Homo sapiens: one gene and its partner. The protein of the gene in region 1 purifies or fractionates together with the protein of each later gene. This does not show direct contact. Each region holds a gene or a part of one and is shown in the gene's direction. Other genes may lie near its edges.

The links.
Region 2: the proteins of NOXRED1 (region 1) and MPZL1 purify together in Homo sapiens (affinity purification with mass spectrometry; 3 studies listed by BioGRID and IntAct, with this or other methods). This does not show direct contact.

What each region holds. Positions count from the first base shown.
Region 1 is NC_000014.9:77,399,497-77,406,523, reverse strand, and holds part of NOXRED1 (NADP-dependent oxidoreductase domain-containing protein 1), read left to right. Parts: intron 1-388; coding exon 389-611; intron 612-7,027.
Region 2 is NC_000001.11:167,759,982-167,767,008, forward strand, and holds part of MPZL1 (myelin protein zero-like protein 1 isoform a precursor), read left to right. Parts: intron 1-5,601; coding exon 5,602-5,768; intron 5,769-7,027. UniProt on the Homo sapiens protein: Cell surface receptor, which is involved in signal transduction processes. Recruits PTPN11/SHP-2 to the cell membrane and is a putative substrate of PTPN11/SHP-2.

The sequences.
Region 1 (7,027 bases):
AGGACAAATTAAAACCAAAAGAGGAGATAGCTTATTTCAATAGGAGGATGTAATGTTGGACTAAAATGGCTTTTCCCTGTTCTAATCTTGTAGTTTTCCCCAGTTCCTTCTCCATATTAGCAACGACTATTCCAGAGACACTTTTTGCCATTAGCAATGTCTACATTAGTTGTATCTGTCCACTTTTGGGATGGTCAACACATGATGTGTTATAAAGGGCACAAGTAGCACTTGTGGCTCAGGAAGGAATGTTTGCTTATCTTGTGGTTCATATTACCAATCTGTCTTGGAAAAAAGGCGGCTATTCACTGTCAGGGGTTTATTCTAGGTTTTCTGCAACTCATTTTTGGTGGTGCTAACTGGTATTTACCTTCTCATTGATGTGTAGGGGGAATAATCCTCAATATCAAGTGGTTGGAGGGAGTGTTCTATGCGGCCCTAAACATATGCACAGCAAGAAACATGGCCCACTCCCAAGTGCTGCAGCTTCTGAGTGAACTCTTTCTCTCCGTGCACTTTGAAGACTGTGGGAAAGACACAGCATCTTGCCCAAAGTTGCAATTAACAGATTTTGTCAGCAAAGCCTATGGCAAGAATTTGTCTCAGGAAAGGTAAGGGCATTGGACAGCTGGCCATTCTCATTTCTCCCAGACTCTTCTCTTAGTTAATGCTTTTTTTCTTTTATCCTTTCATGTTCTCTTTAAACATTGATAAAAATTATACCTTTTTGTAAAGAATTTCAACTAGTGGAAAAGTAAATGCCATCCTTTGCCTTCCAAATCCCATTTCATAGATTTCACCTCTAACAGTTTTTATATTTTTATCTATGCATTTACAAACATTTATATTGTTATAATGTATATGCATATCTATTCCTATATATACAGTGTTAGACACATGGGAACTATATATTCTGCTTTTTTACTTACTGTATCACAGCTACCATTCTATGTTAGTACAATCATAGCTACTTCATTTATGAGCAGCTACCTAGGTGTCCACCGGACACATTTATTCCATTAAATTTATTCACTCCTTTTCCACTTGATAGAGATGTAGTTCCTCCTCTCATCCCCAATTTTGCATTACGGGCTGCTTTGACATTCTTTATTTTATTTTATTTTATTTTGTGAGACAGTCTTGCTCTGTCACCCAGGCTGGAGTGCAGTGGCACGATCTCGGCTCACTGCAACCTCTGCCTCCCGGCTTTAAGTGATTCAAGTGCCTCAGCCTCCCGAGTAGCTGGGATTACAGGCATGTGCCACCATGCCTGGCTAATTTTTGTATTTTTAGTAGATACAGGGTTTCGCCATGTTGGCCAGGCTGGTCTCCAACTCTTGACCTCAAGTGATCCGCCCGCCTTGGCCTACCAAAGTGCTGGGATTACAGGTGTGAGCCAGTGCGCCTGGCCTGCTTTGAACATTCTTGTACTTTGTGCACTTGTACCAGTATTTCGGTGGCATATGTGAAAGAAGCTCTGGGTCAAAGTTTATGCATATTTTATATTTGATAGGTGTTCCCAAATTGCTTATAAAAAATGTGGTACTTGTTTACATTTCTACCAACAGCATATGAGGGTGCCACTTCTTTAATATCTGATAACTATCAAATAAATATTTTTGATCTTTGATAATCTAATATGCAAAGATTATTGCTCTTATTACTAGTGACTTCCATGTCACTAGATCCACTGGATGCTTTAAACTCTTTTTCTTCCTTAATTATTGAACATGCCATCCTTCTTGAAGCAGTCTCTTCTCTAGGCTGTCATGATCCCTCCCGTTCTCCTCATTTTCTTCCTGACTCCCCGGCCCCTCCTTGGCTAGCTTCTCCTCTGCCTCACCCTTAAATCTGGGTGTTTTCAGGGCTCTATCCTAGGCCCTTTTCTTTTCATGCTATACTTCTTTTCATTCTATACTTTGTTCCCGGTGATCTTTTCCACTTTGGGGACTTAGGTTCCCATCTTTTCACTGACAGCATATAACTCTGTATCTCTAGCCTAAATGTCAATGCTGTGCCTAGGTAACTGTGTATTCACCATCTCCACTCAAACTCACCATGTCCAAAAACATACCTGCTCTTAAACCTGCTCTTCTGATGTTTCTTACCTAATTATATGCTGCTTCACCAAGTTGTTCAAGTCAGAACCCTAGATGTAATCCTAGATTCTTCTTCCTCATCTTTCGTATTCCAATCAATCATCAATGGACAGTTTATTCTCTATGCCTGTGATTCACGTTTGGTTTGGAGATTTTTCTTCTTCATTATCCCAGGGATTCCCCTCACTTTTCTGTTGTATTGGATCTCTTGTTTCCTGTCATGGAAACATCTCTTGTTTCTCTCTCATGAATTACTTCTTAATTTGGGGGGAACATGTCCTGTAGTACCTTCCTGAGAAAGGGTGCATTGAAATAATTTTCAGAGACTCTTTGAGATGTTTTTATTCTAGCGTTCTATTTTATTGAGAACATAGCCAGGTATAGAATTGCAGGTTGGAAATAATTTTCCCTTAAAATTTTGAGGGATTGCATCTACAGCCATACCACCCTGAACGTGCCTGATATCATCTGATCTCAGAAGCTAAGCAGGGTCGGGCCTGGTTAGTACTTGGATGGGAGAATTTTGAGGCATTGCTTCATTGTCTTTCAGCTTCTAGAGTTGCTACTGAGAGTTACAGTGCCATTCTAATTCTTAATCCTTTGTCTGAAACCTGTTTCTTTCCTTTCTGGAAGCTTATGAGATCTTTTGACCTCAGTATCTTGAAATTTTATGATGTGCCATGATGTAGGTCTATTTTAATTAAATGTTGAGCACTTGGTGGGCCTGTTATTTCCATTAACTTTTTTGTTTTTATTTTTATTTTTTTGATAGAGGGTCTTACTCTGCTGCCCAGGCTGGAATGCAGTGGTGTGTAATGTTGGCTCACTGCAACCTCCACCTCCTGGGCTCACGTGATCTTCCCACCTCAGCCTCCCGAGTAGCTGGGACTACAGGCACACACCACCACGCCTGGCTAATTTTTGTATTTTTAGTGATAAGTCTATCAAGCAATATAGTGTCTGGGATTGCCTTCAAAATAATCCAATAGATGGGGGTAAAGGAGTAGGGGTGGGGTTTTGTATGAGAAAAGATTAGCTATAAATTGATAATTGTTAAATCTGAGTGATAGGCATATGGAGTTTCGTTATACTATTTTTTGTTATATTCTTTTTTACTTAATACTATTCTATGTTTCATTCTATTTTGTTTTAAAATTTCCATAATAAAAACAAAAGGTTTCCTTCTAGTAGTTTGTCAACCCTAATTTACTCATCCCAATTTTATTCTTCTCAAGTTTTAAGAAAATCTATTTCAAATTTTATCAGTTTCCCTTTTAAGCATTTAATGAGATTTTTGTTTCTCCTCTCCTTTAAGATTGTAATATTTAATTAATGTTGTAAACTATATAGTTTTCCTGTCAAATTTTCCTTGTATTCTTTTTTTTTTCTGAGACGGAGTTTCACTTCTGTTGCCCAAGCTGGAGTGCAATGGTGTGATCTCGGCTCACTGCGATCTCTGCCTCCTGGGTTCAAGCGATTCTCCTGCCTCAGCCTCCCAAGTAGCTGGGATTACAGGCATGCACCACCACACCCGGCTAATTTTTTGTGTTTTTAGTAGAAATGGGGTTTCACCATGTTAGCAGGCTGGTCTCAAACTCCTGACCTCAGGTGATGCCCACCTTGGCCTCCCAAAATACTGGGATTACAGGCATGAACCACCATGCCTGGCCTGATGTGTAGCATCTTTTCATATGCTTATTGACCATTTGTATATTGTCTTTGGTGAAGTGTCTGTTAAGGTCTCTGGCCCATTTTTAAATTGGTTTGTGTTCCTATTGTTGAATTTTTTTGAGACGGAGGTTTGCTCTTGTTGCCCAGGCTAGAGTGCAATGGCACGATCTCGGCTCACCGCAACCTCTGCCTCCCGGGTTCAAGTGATTCTCCTGCCTCAGCCCCCCGAGTAGCTGGGATTACAGGCATGCACCACCATGCCTGGCTAATTTTTGTATTTATATATTTTTAATAGAGATGAGGTTTCTCCATGTTAGTCAGGCTGGTCTTGAACTCCCGACCTCAGGTGATCCGCTCACCTTGGCCTCCCAAAGTGCTGGGATTACAGGCGTGAGCCATGGCGCCCGGCTCCTATTGTTGAATTTTAAGAGTTCTTTGTATGTTTTGGAAAACAGTCCTTTATCTGTCTTCTGCAAATATTTTCTCTAGTCTGTGGCTTATGTTTTCATTCTCTTGACAGTGTCTTTCACAAAGCAGAGACTTTTAGTTTTAGTTATTTAAATTCTTTAATTATGTCCACCTTGTCAATTGTTTTTTTCATGGATCATGCCTTTGGTGTTAACAACTATAAAGTCACTGCCAAAGCCAAGATCATCTAGATTTTCTCCTATGTTATCTTCCAGGAGTTTTATAGTTCTGCATGTGACACATTTTGACTTAACTTCTGTGAAGGGTGTAAGGTTTGTGTCTAGATTCATTTTTTCTTTTTTGCATGTAGATATCCAAGTGCTTCAGTACCATTTGTGAAGAGACTGTCTTTTCTCCATTATATTGCTTTTGCTCCTTTGTCAAAGAGCAGTTAACTATATTTATGCGGGTCTATTTCTGGGCTTTCTATTCTATTCCACTCTATTTGTCTTTCACCAATACTGCACTGTCATGATTACTGTAGCTTTAAAGGATGTCTTGAAGTTGGGTAGTGTTACTCCTCTGACTTTGTTCTTCCATTTCAATACTGAGTTGGCTATTCTGAGTCTTGTTTGTTGTTGAGACAAGGTCTTGCTCTGCTGCCCCAGCTGGGGTGCAGTGGCACGATCATGGCTCACTGCATCCTCAACCTTCTGGGCTCAAGCAATCCTCCCACTTCAGCTTCCTGAGTAGCTAGAACTACAGAACTACAGGTGCACACCATTGTGCCCAGCTGATTTTTTATATTTTTTTGTAGAGATGGGATCTTGCTATGTTGCCCAGGCTGGTCTCAAGCTCCTGGCCTCAAGTGATCCTCCTGCCTCAGCCTCCCAAAGTGCTGGAATTACAGGCATGAGCCGTCACACCCAGCCTGTTCTGAGTCTTTTGCTCTTCCATTTAAACTTTTTTTTTTTGAGGTGGAGTCTTGTTCTGTTGCCCATGCTGGAGTGCAGTGGCGCCATCTTGGCTCACTGCAACCTCTGCTTCCTGGGTTCAAGCAATTCTCTTGCCTCAGCCTCCCCAGTAGCTGGGATTACAGGCACCCGCCACCATGCCCAGCTAATTTTTGTATTTTAGTAGAGATGGGGTTTCACCATGTTGGCCAGGCTGGTCTCAAACTCCTGACCTCGTGATCCACCCACCTCGGCCTCCCAAAGTGCTGGGATTACAGGCATGAGCTGCTGCACCTGGCCCCATTTAAACTATAGAGTCAATTTTTCAATATCCACAAAATAATTTCCTGGGATTTTGATTGGCATTGCGTTGAATGTGTAGTTCAGTTGGGAAGAACTGGCATCTTTATAGTATTGAGTCTTCTTCTCCATGAACATGAAATCTCTATATTTATTTTGTTGTTTTTAGACTTCTCTCATCAGTTTCATAGTTTTCCTTATGTAGATCTTGCACATATTTCATTTGATTTATACCTAAGTATTTCATTTTGGGGGTTCTAATATAAATGGTAATGTGTTTTTAATTTTAAATTCCACTTGTTCATTGCTGGTATATAGAAAAGACACTGACTTTTGCATATTAATCTTGTATCCTACAACTTTGCAACATACATTTAAACATTTGCCCTATTGCTTCACTAAGCCATTCTAAGTCATAAGAGACTATTCCTGTAAATTGTGTATTCAGTGAAAGGCTCATCAAAAACTCAGAAGAATAAAACCGTTTGTCTCTTATCTACCTATGACCTGGAAACCCCCGCCCCACTTGAAGTTGTCCCACCTTTCCAGACCAAACCAATGTACATCTTACATATAGTGATTGATGTCTCCTGTATTCCTAAAATGTATAAAACCATGCTGTGCCCCGACTACCTTGGGCACATGTCATCAGAACCTCCTGAGGCTGTGTCACGGGCACATAGCCACAACCTCGGCAAAATAAACTTTCTAAATTGACTGATGCTTGTCTCAGATACTTTCTGGTTTACAGTGTTATCTGTTAGATCAGTTAGGAGTAAGAAAAACTAAAGTTATCTTCACTTGTTCCTTCTTCAGTGCTCTTCTTTTCTTTATGTAGATCCGTGTTTCTGACCTATATCATTTTCCTCCTAAGGAACTTCTTTGAACATTTCTTGCAAGACAGGTCTACTGGCAACAAATTCCCTCAATTTTTGTTTGGTAAAGTCTTTATTTCTCCTTCACTTTAGAAGGATAACTTTGCACAGAGTTCTAGGTTAGTGATTTTTTTTCTTCCTGCACTTTAAATATTTCACTGCACTCTCTCCTTGCTTGCATGATCCTAAAAATCAGCTTTCTTATCTTTGTTTTTCTATGGGTATGGTGTTTTTTTTCCCTCTGGCTTATCTCAAGATTTTTTGTTTTTCTGTAGTCTCAAAATGATATGTTTAGGTATAGTTTCTTGTGTGTTTTTGTTATTTATCCTGCTTGGTGTCTTCTTGAGCTTCCTAGATCTGTGGTTTGGTGTCTGACATTAATTTGGGGGAAATTCTCAGTCATTATTGTTTCAAATATTTCTTGTGTCCTTTCTCTCCTCCTTCTAGTCTCATTATGCGCATGTTACATCTTTTGTAGTTGTCCCACAGTCCTTGGATATTTTGTTCTGTATTTTTCGTCTTTGTTTTCTTTGCTTTTCAGTTTTGGAGGTTTCTGTTGAGATATCCTCAGATTCAGAGATTATTTCCTCGGCCATGAACAGTCTACTAATAGGGGCCTCAAAGATATTCTTCATATCTGTCACAGTGTTTTTAATGAGTAGTATTTATTTTTGGTTCCTGGAACTTCCATCTTTCTGCTTCCGTAGTCTGCCGTCTACTT
Region 2 (7,027 bases), on another chromosome or scaffold:
TTTGAGTAGAAGAGTGATATGATCCAACCTGAATTTTAATGAGATCTCTTTGGCCTCTCTGTGGACTAGTTGCTGTGAAGTGGGGAAGGCTGAAGGAGGCAGACACCAATTAGGAAGCTATCAATACTTAATCCAGGTGAAAGATGACAGTGGCTTGGACCAAGATGGTGACACCAAATGAGGCAGAGAGAGATCAATTTCTAGATAGGTTTCTTTTGTTTTGTTTTGTTTTGTTTTTTGAGACAGAGTCTCGCTCTGTCACCCCGCCCAGAGTGTAGTGGTGTGATCTCAGCTCACTGCAAGCTCCGCCTCCCGGGTTCACGCCATTCTCCTGCCTCAGCCTTCCGATTAGCTGGTACTACAGGCGCCCGCCACCACACCAGCTAATTCTTTTGTATTTTTAGTAGAGACGGGGTTTCACCATGTTAGCCAGGATGGTCTTGATCTCCTGACCTCGGTGTTCCGCCCACTTTGGCCTCCCAAAGTGCTGGGATTACAAACGTGAGCCACCGCACCCGGCCCCTCTAGATAGGTTTCTAAGTAGAGATGACATGTGTAGCTGACAGCTTGGAGGAAAGTTGTGCAAAAGAGAGGAGTCACAAAACAGTCCAGGGTTTTGGTCTCAGCCACTAGAAAACTGGTGTTACCATTTACTGATTTGGAGAAGACCATGGAAAGGAAGTTTGGGGGGTGGGAATCAGGAGTTTAATTTGGACATATTAAATTTGAGATGATGCCAATTACATCCAAGCAAAGTTGAATAGGCTGTGTGTGTGTGTGTGTGTGTGTGTGTGTGTGTGTGTGTGTGTGTGTACAGGTGTCATCAGCATTTGAAACTGAGTGAGGTCACCAAGAGAAGGAATGTTAAATAGATACGCAGTCAGAGAAATGATCTGGGCTCTTAATCATATAGAGGTCAGGAGAACCAGGGAAGGAGCAGTCAATGAGATAAGAGAATCAAGAGGGAGAGGCATTCCAAAAGCCAAACTGTTAAAAAACAAAAAAAAAGGTTTTAGCAGGGAGTAACTTTCAAAGGTTTTAGATAGGGCAATAAGACAAGATTTGAGAATTAACCATGGAGGTCATTGCATTCCTTAACAAAAACAGTTTCTATGGAGTAACGGAGATGAAAGCCTAAATTGGATTTATCCAAGAGAACAGAAGAGGAGAGAAATTGGACACAGTGTGTACAGACAGTTCTTTCAAGATTGATAAAATAAAGGAGGACAAAGGGGCCAGAGCTGCAGGGAGATGCAGGGTCAAGGTTTTTTTTCTCTAAACCTGGGATATAAATATAAATATGTATGTTTATATTGCTGCTGGTGGTAATTCAGTAGTGAGTGAAAAATTCAGAAGAGGGAGAATTGCTGGATCAATAAATGTCCTTAGGTAGGCAAGAGATGAGATGCAATGTGCAGTGGAGAGGTTCATCCTGGAGAGGGATGCAGACAGACACTTTCTACATAGGAGTGCAGGGAAAGCAGAATGGGCACAGATGCAGGGAGGTGGGTAGCTATGGTGTCTGGACATAGGGAGGTTCTCTTCTCATTGCTTCTGTTTTCTCGGTGAAATAAGCAGCTCAGTCATTAGCTGGGAGTGAGAAACCAGAGGAAGTGGAAATTTGAGGTTAGAGAGGAAGGTTTAAACTAGTCCTCTAGGGAAATGGAAAGCAGATGGATTAGGGCAATGTGGGTGGATTGCTAGACAGCATTAAGAGTCCCTTTAAGGTTAGTGACCATACATTTAAGGCGAAAATAGTCAGTGGGATTGTGTGCTTTTGTCCAGCTGTGGTCAGCCACCCTGGTGGAGATGCATAGTGGATAGAGAATTGAATTTAACCAGGATAGAGGTTCCAGGTGAAGGCCCTGAAGGGAGAGGCAAGAGAGCTGATTGTGTATGCAAGGGGGTGAGTATAATGGTGGCCTATGGGGTTTAGTCTGAGTAAGGCAAATGAAGACATGCTGGGATTTTAGTTTCTGATGCAGCTTAGGGATCAGTGAACTCAGGGTTTTGGAGGATATTGGAAAGCTAAGAGGTGGTCAATTAGGGAGTAGAGAAGCCTGAAACTACGATTCTGGAGTGGGTGCAGGTACTGATGATTGGGTCTAGAGCTAGTGATTCTCAACTGGGGGGATTTCACCTCTGAGGAGGCATTTGCAATGTCTGGAGACATTTTTGGTTGTCACAACTGGAGGCAGAGGAGATACTGCTGTCATCTAGTAGAGGCCAGGGGTGCTGCTCAACATCCTACAAGGTATAGCACAGTTTCCCACAACAAAGGATTGTCTGTGGCAGTTGTCAGTAGTGCTGAGGTTGAGAAGCCCTGGTTTAGGGTATAAAAGAAAAACTTCAGCTGAATTAAATTTAAAGGAGTTTAACTGAACAAAGAATGAACTGCGAATTGGGCAGCCTTCTGAGCCAAGGTAGGCTCAGAGACGCCAGCGCAGCCACGTGGCGGAAGAAGATTTATGGACAGAAAAAGGAAAGTGATGTACAGAAAACGGGAGTGAGGTACAGAAACAGCTGCATTGATTATAGCTCAGCATTTGCCTTACTTGAACACAATTTGAACAGTTGGCTACATTTGATTGGCCAAAACTCGGTGCTTGGCCCAAGGTGATTGGCTACGGCCTGTTTACACCTACACTTGTTATAGTTCACAGTGTACAGAAAAACCCTTAGGCTGAACTTAAAATATGTAAGGAGGCAGCTTTAGGCTAAACTTGATTGAACAGGTATGACCATAGAAATGAGTGGCTGGGGTAGGCCTGATCTTACCCAGATTATTGGAGAAGATAAACAGACTAGGGTTTTAGAAGGTTTATCTTACAACTGATGAAATCTCCAAAAATGATGACAAGAGTAGTATTAGAGAAAAGTGTAGATAGCCAGGGATGGGAGGAAGTTAATTTCTCAGTGTGTGGCATCATTTTCTTTTTCTTGAGCTAGCTGATGGGCTAGCTTTGGATTTCATAATCCTGGCTAAGAGCTACACGTTCAGATTAGCCAAAGAGTGTTGTGTGTTTTTTAAAAAGCCACCTGTTTATTACCTAACTTTGGTATAATGAAATCTGTGTCTTAAATAGATGCCTAAAAGCCATTTGGGAATTTGGTTAGTCTTTTTGCTCAAAATTCTGTGACTGTAAACTTGGACACTTGGTCTAATTCCATCTTTAAATAATGTCTCGGGATGACAAGTCTTGCAGCTAGGCCTCGAGGAAGGGATCTGGTTTAAGAAAATCCTTGAAGAAGGCTGGGTGCGGTGGCTCACGCCTGTAATCCCAGCACTTTGGGGGGGCCGGGGCTGGTGAATCACCTGAGGTCAGGAGTTCGAGACCAGCCTGGGCAACATGGTGAAACCCCGTCTCTACTAAAAATACAAAAATTAGCTGGGCGTCGTGGTGGGTGTCTGTAATCCCAGCTACTCGGGAGGCTGAGGCAGGAGAATTGCTTGAACCCAGGAGGCGGAGGTTGCAACACTGCACTCCAGCCTGAGTGACAAGATTGAGACTCGGTCTCAAAAAAAAAAAAAAGAAAGAAAGAAAAGAAAATCCTTGAGAAACTTTATTTATAGACTTTTAGAGACTGTGGCTTTCCAGTACTCATCACCATGGAGAAAACTAGTCAAAATCACACAGAGTGAATAAGGGTTGCAAGCCAGTGCTGCTTCCTGGAATAAGCTGGTCCACTAGTCTAGTCTTGTGCTTTGTCCTTCATTTTGAACTCAAGTGCCCTGGGGCTGCTTTTCTGCGTACCCACAATAGCAAGGAACTCTTTTGTTTGCATCTCCTCTGAAAGAAATGCTTGTTTTGAGGTTTGGACCGCAAATAATAATCTATTGTTCCCTGTAATAATAATCCACCCTCTTTCGCAGAAAAAAAAATCTGCTTGATGCAGTATGGCTATCAGTTTATTTAAAAGAATAGCCAAAAGTGCCCATTATGTCCTGAGAATAAACATTTGCAAGATGGTTGGGAGGAATGGGGGAGTACTCTTGTTCTCCTTGGCTGAGAGTCAGTTAAGTCTTCAAGGAGAAAAAATTCTGAAAATGACCATCAGTCCTGGCTGACAATACTCTTCCTTATTCTGCCCGTCTGTTACATTCTAAGAATTATTGCAACACTGCAGATATTTATTCCAAACGATTTCTTTAAAAAATATGGAAGATGGGTATTTTTAAGTTACCAATTTTGGGCCAAATAAGTTTTTTTTTTCTGACTTTCATTTTGTCTGTGAAAGCATTTCTTTTATAGCAGTATGTTCAAATTAGCAATCTTTAAGAATTTGGCAAATACTTTTAACAGCAATCCTTAACAATTCCTGCAGTTGCCTACTATTGCAGATCTTGAAAAAAGAGCCATTTTTATATTCTAAGTGGTAGACACATTTCAATTACTATTTCCTGGGCTTAGGCTAACTGACAAAACTTGATGGGTGAAATGAAAATGTGATATACGGTGTAATCAGCTGTTTACTTACCTAGCACAGTGAAATCTTATGGTAGGTATGATTGCACTAACAAAACCAAAACATGCATTTTTCTTCCTTAAGTTCTTTATAAGAAAAGGATCAGTTAAATAATAAATGTGGCTTTAAAATGAAGTTATATCTTAGGATAGTTTTAATTGCATTACATATGGATGATGAGAAAAGTTCAGTGTGATAACAATTGCGTAACAGATAAGCATGAGAACTACTTAAAGAAATAAAAATATGCCCATCACCTCATTAAAAATAGACCATCAGGGAAGCCACCAAGAAGTCCTTCAGTAGGTGAATGAATAAACTGTGGTACATCCATACAATTTGTATATTATTCAGCAATAAAAAGAAATGAGATATTATGCCACAAAAAGACACGGAAGAAAGTTAAGTGCATATTACTAAGTGAAAGAAGGCAACCTTAAAAGGCTACATGCTGTATAATTTTAACTAGATAACATTCTAGAAAAGGCAAACCTATAGAGACAGTATAAGGTCAGTGTTTGCCAGGGGTGTGGGGGGAAGGACGGCAGGAATAAATTGGTGTAGCACAGGGGATGCTTAGGGAGTGAAACTATTCTGTATGATACTGTAATGGTGGAGACGTCACTATTCACCTTTGTCAAAATCCATAAGATCTACAACACTAACACAAATCCTAATGTAAACTATGGACTGTGGTTAACAATGATGTAACCATATTGGCTCATCAATTAAAACAAACGTATAACACTAATGCCAGATGTTAATAATAGGAGAAACAGGTTGGCCATGGGAGAGTGAGGGAATATGAGAATTCTACCTTCTATTCAATGTTTCTGTAAACCTGAAACTGCTCTTTAAAAAGTCTATTAGTTTAAAAAAAAAATTCAATATAACCAGACTAATAAAAATATCTTAACTAAAAAGCAATACAAACCTAAACTGTCAGCAATTATTCTGTTTATAGTGCTATTCTGATTGAACTTAGCTGTAGAATATTCTGCCAGAAATATGTAATGGCAGTGAATTACTGTATATATCTAGTAACTTTGCTGTATCTTTTCTTGTCTGGCAAAAATGCACAGTGGTATTCATGTTAAGTCCTACTTTCAACTACCCTTATTCCTTTCTCTTCAGTGACAGCTGGAGTATCAGCCTTGGAAGTATATACGCCAAAAGAAATCTTCGTGGCAAATGGTACACAAGGGAAGCTGACCTGCAAGTTCAAGTCTACTAGTACGACTGGCGGGTTGACCTCAGTCTCCTGGAGCTTCCAGCCAGAGGGGGCCGACACTACTGTGTCGGTAAGAATGCTTGACTTCTCTTGGCTAGTCCTGCCTCACAGGTTTCTTTACTGCTGTATAATTGGTGATCCATTTTTCTGATGGTTCATTTCCAAAATGAGTGTATTTTTTATCTGTTATAGACTTCAAGGCCCTTCTTTTGCTTCAGGATAAAATAAGTTCAGCATCTCTTAAATGCGTCTGGTTTCCTTGTCTTTGATCAGTTCCTCTCCACCATCAAATCCCATTCTGAAATTGATCTTAATTGACCACACTGACTCTAATCAGGATTTATCCTGCATCTTTTCATCTTTTATTGCCCCATATTTATTGATATTTGTTTTATGTATTATCAAATTTTATATATATATGTATGCATCTTCTGATTTGATTATCTTTTTTTAATTTAGCGTATAGTCCATCTGATTTAGCAATATTGATTTGGGAGCTTACTATGTAGTGGGTTATGTAGGGCCTTCAAAAATGTCTAAAACAGAATCCTTGCTCTCACCTAGAGATGATTAGGAGGAAGGCTGATATATAGATGACTTTGGAGTAAGATAAAGGATGTAACAGAAATACAGCACCAGAGCATTGAAAAAAGGTTATTTAGTAACTAGTGGAGTGCTGGTTATTAAACATGAACTGACTATCTTGGTTCTGGTCTGTAAAATGGAGACGATAAAACCTCCCACACAAGGGTGTTAGGAGGATAAAGTAAGATTATTCAAGATAAGTGCTCAGGAGAGTGTCTAGCTCTTGAGTTACTAAAATACACCATTTGTTGTTACTGTTGCTCTCCCAGCATGTGGAATGCCCTTCATATATTGGCACATATTTTAGTACTGTTGCATGTTTCAGGTTGTCAGTGTTTAGCAAGGACAGTCTGTCATCTATCTTTAAGAATGCCCAATTCTTCTTCTGAATGGTGAGTTACATTGTTGATCACCACCTAGATGTTGGGCCCATCATATGCCTATGCCATTTAATCTTCACAGCTCTATGAGGAAGACAGGGTGGGGAGGATGGGAGACACTGACTCAAGAGTTATTCACCTGTGGCCATACCACACAGGTTAGAATTGTTTAAACTTCAATACGGTATGATTTCCCTTATGTATTATTTCTCTCTCAGGTAGAAAAATCTGCTAATAATATTTACGGCCTCATAGGTTTTAGGGATTACCTAAGGCAGTGCTTCTCAGTATTTTTTAAAATTTATTTTTAAAAGGAGCCTTTTCACATTTTTCTTAATCTCTGCCCCCTTCCATGAAATTTTAA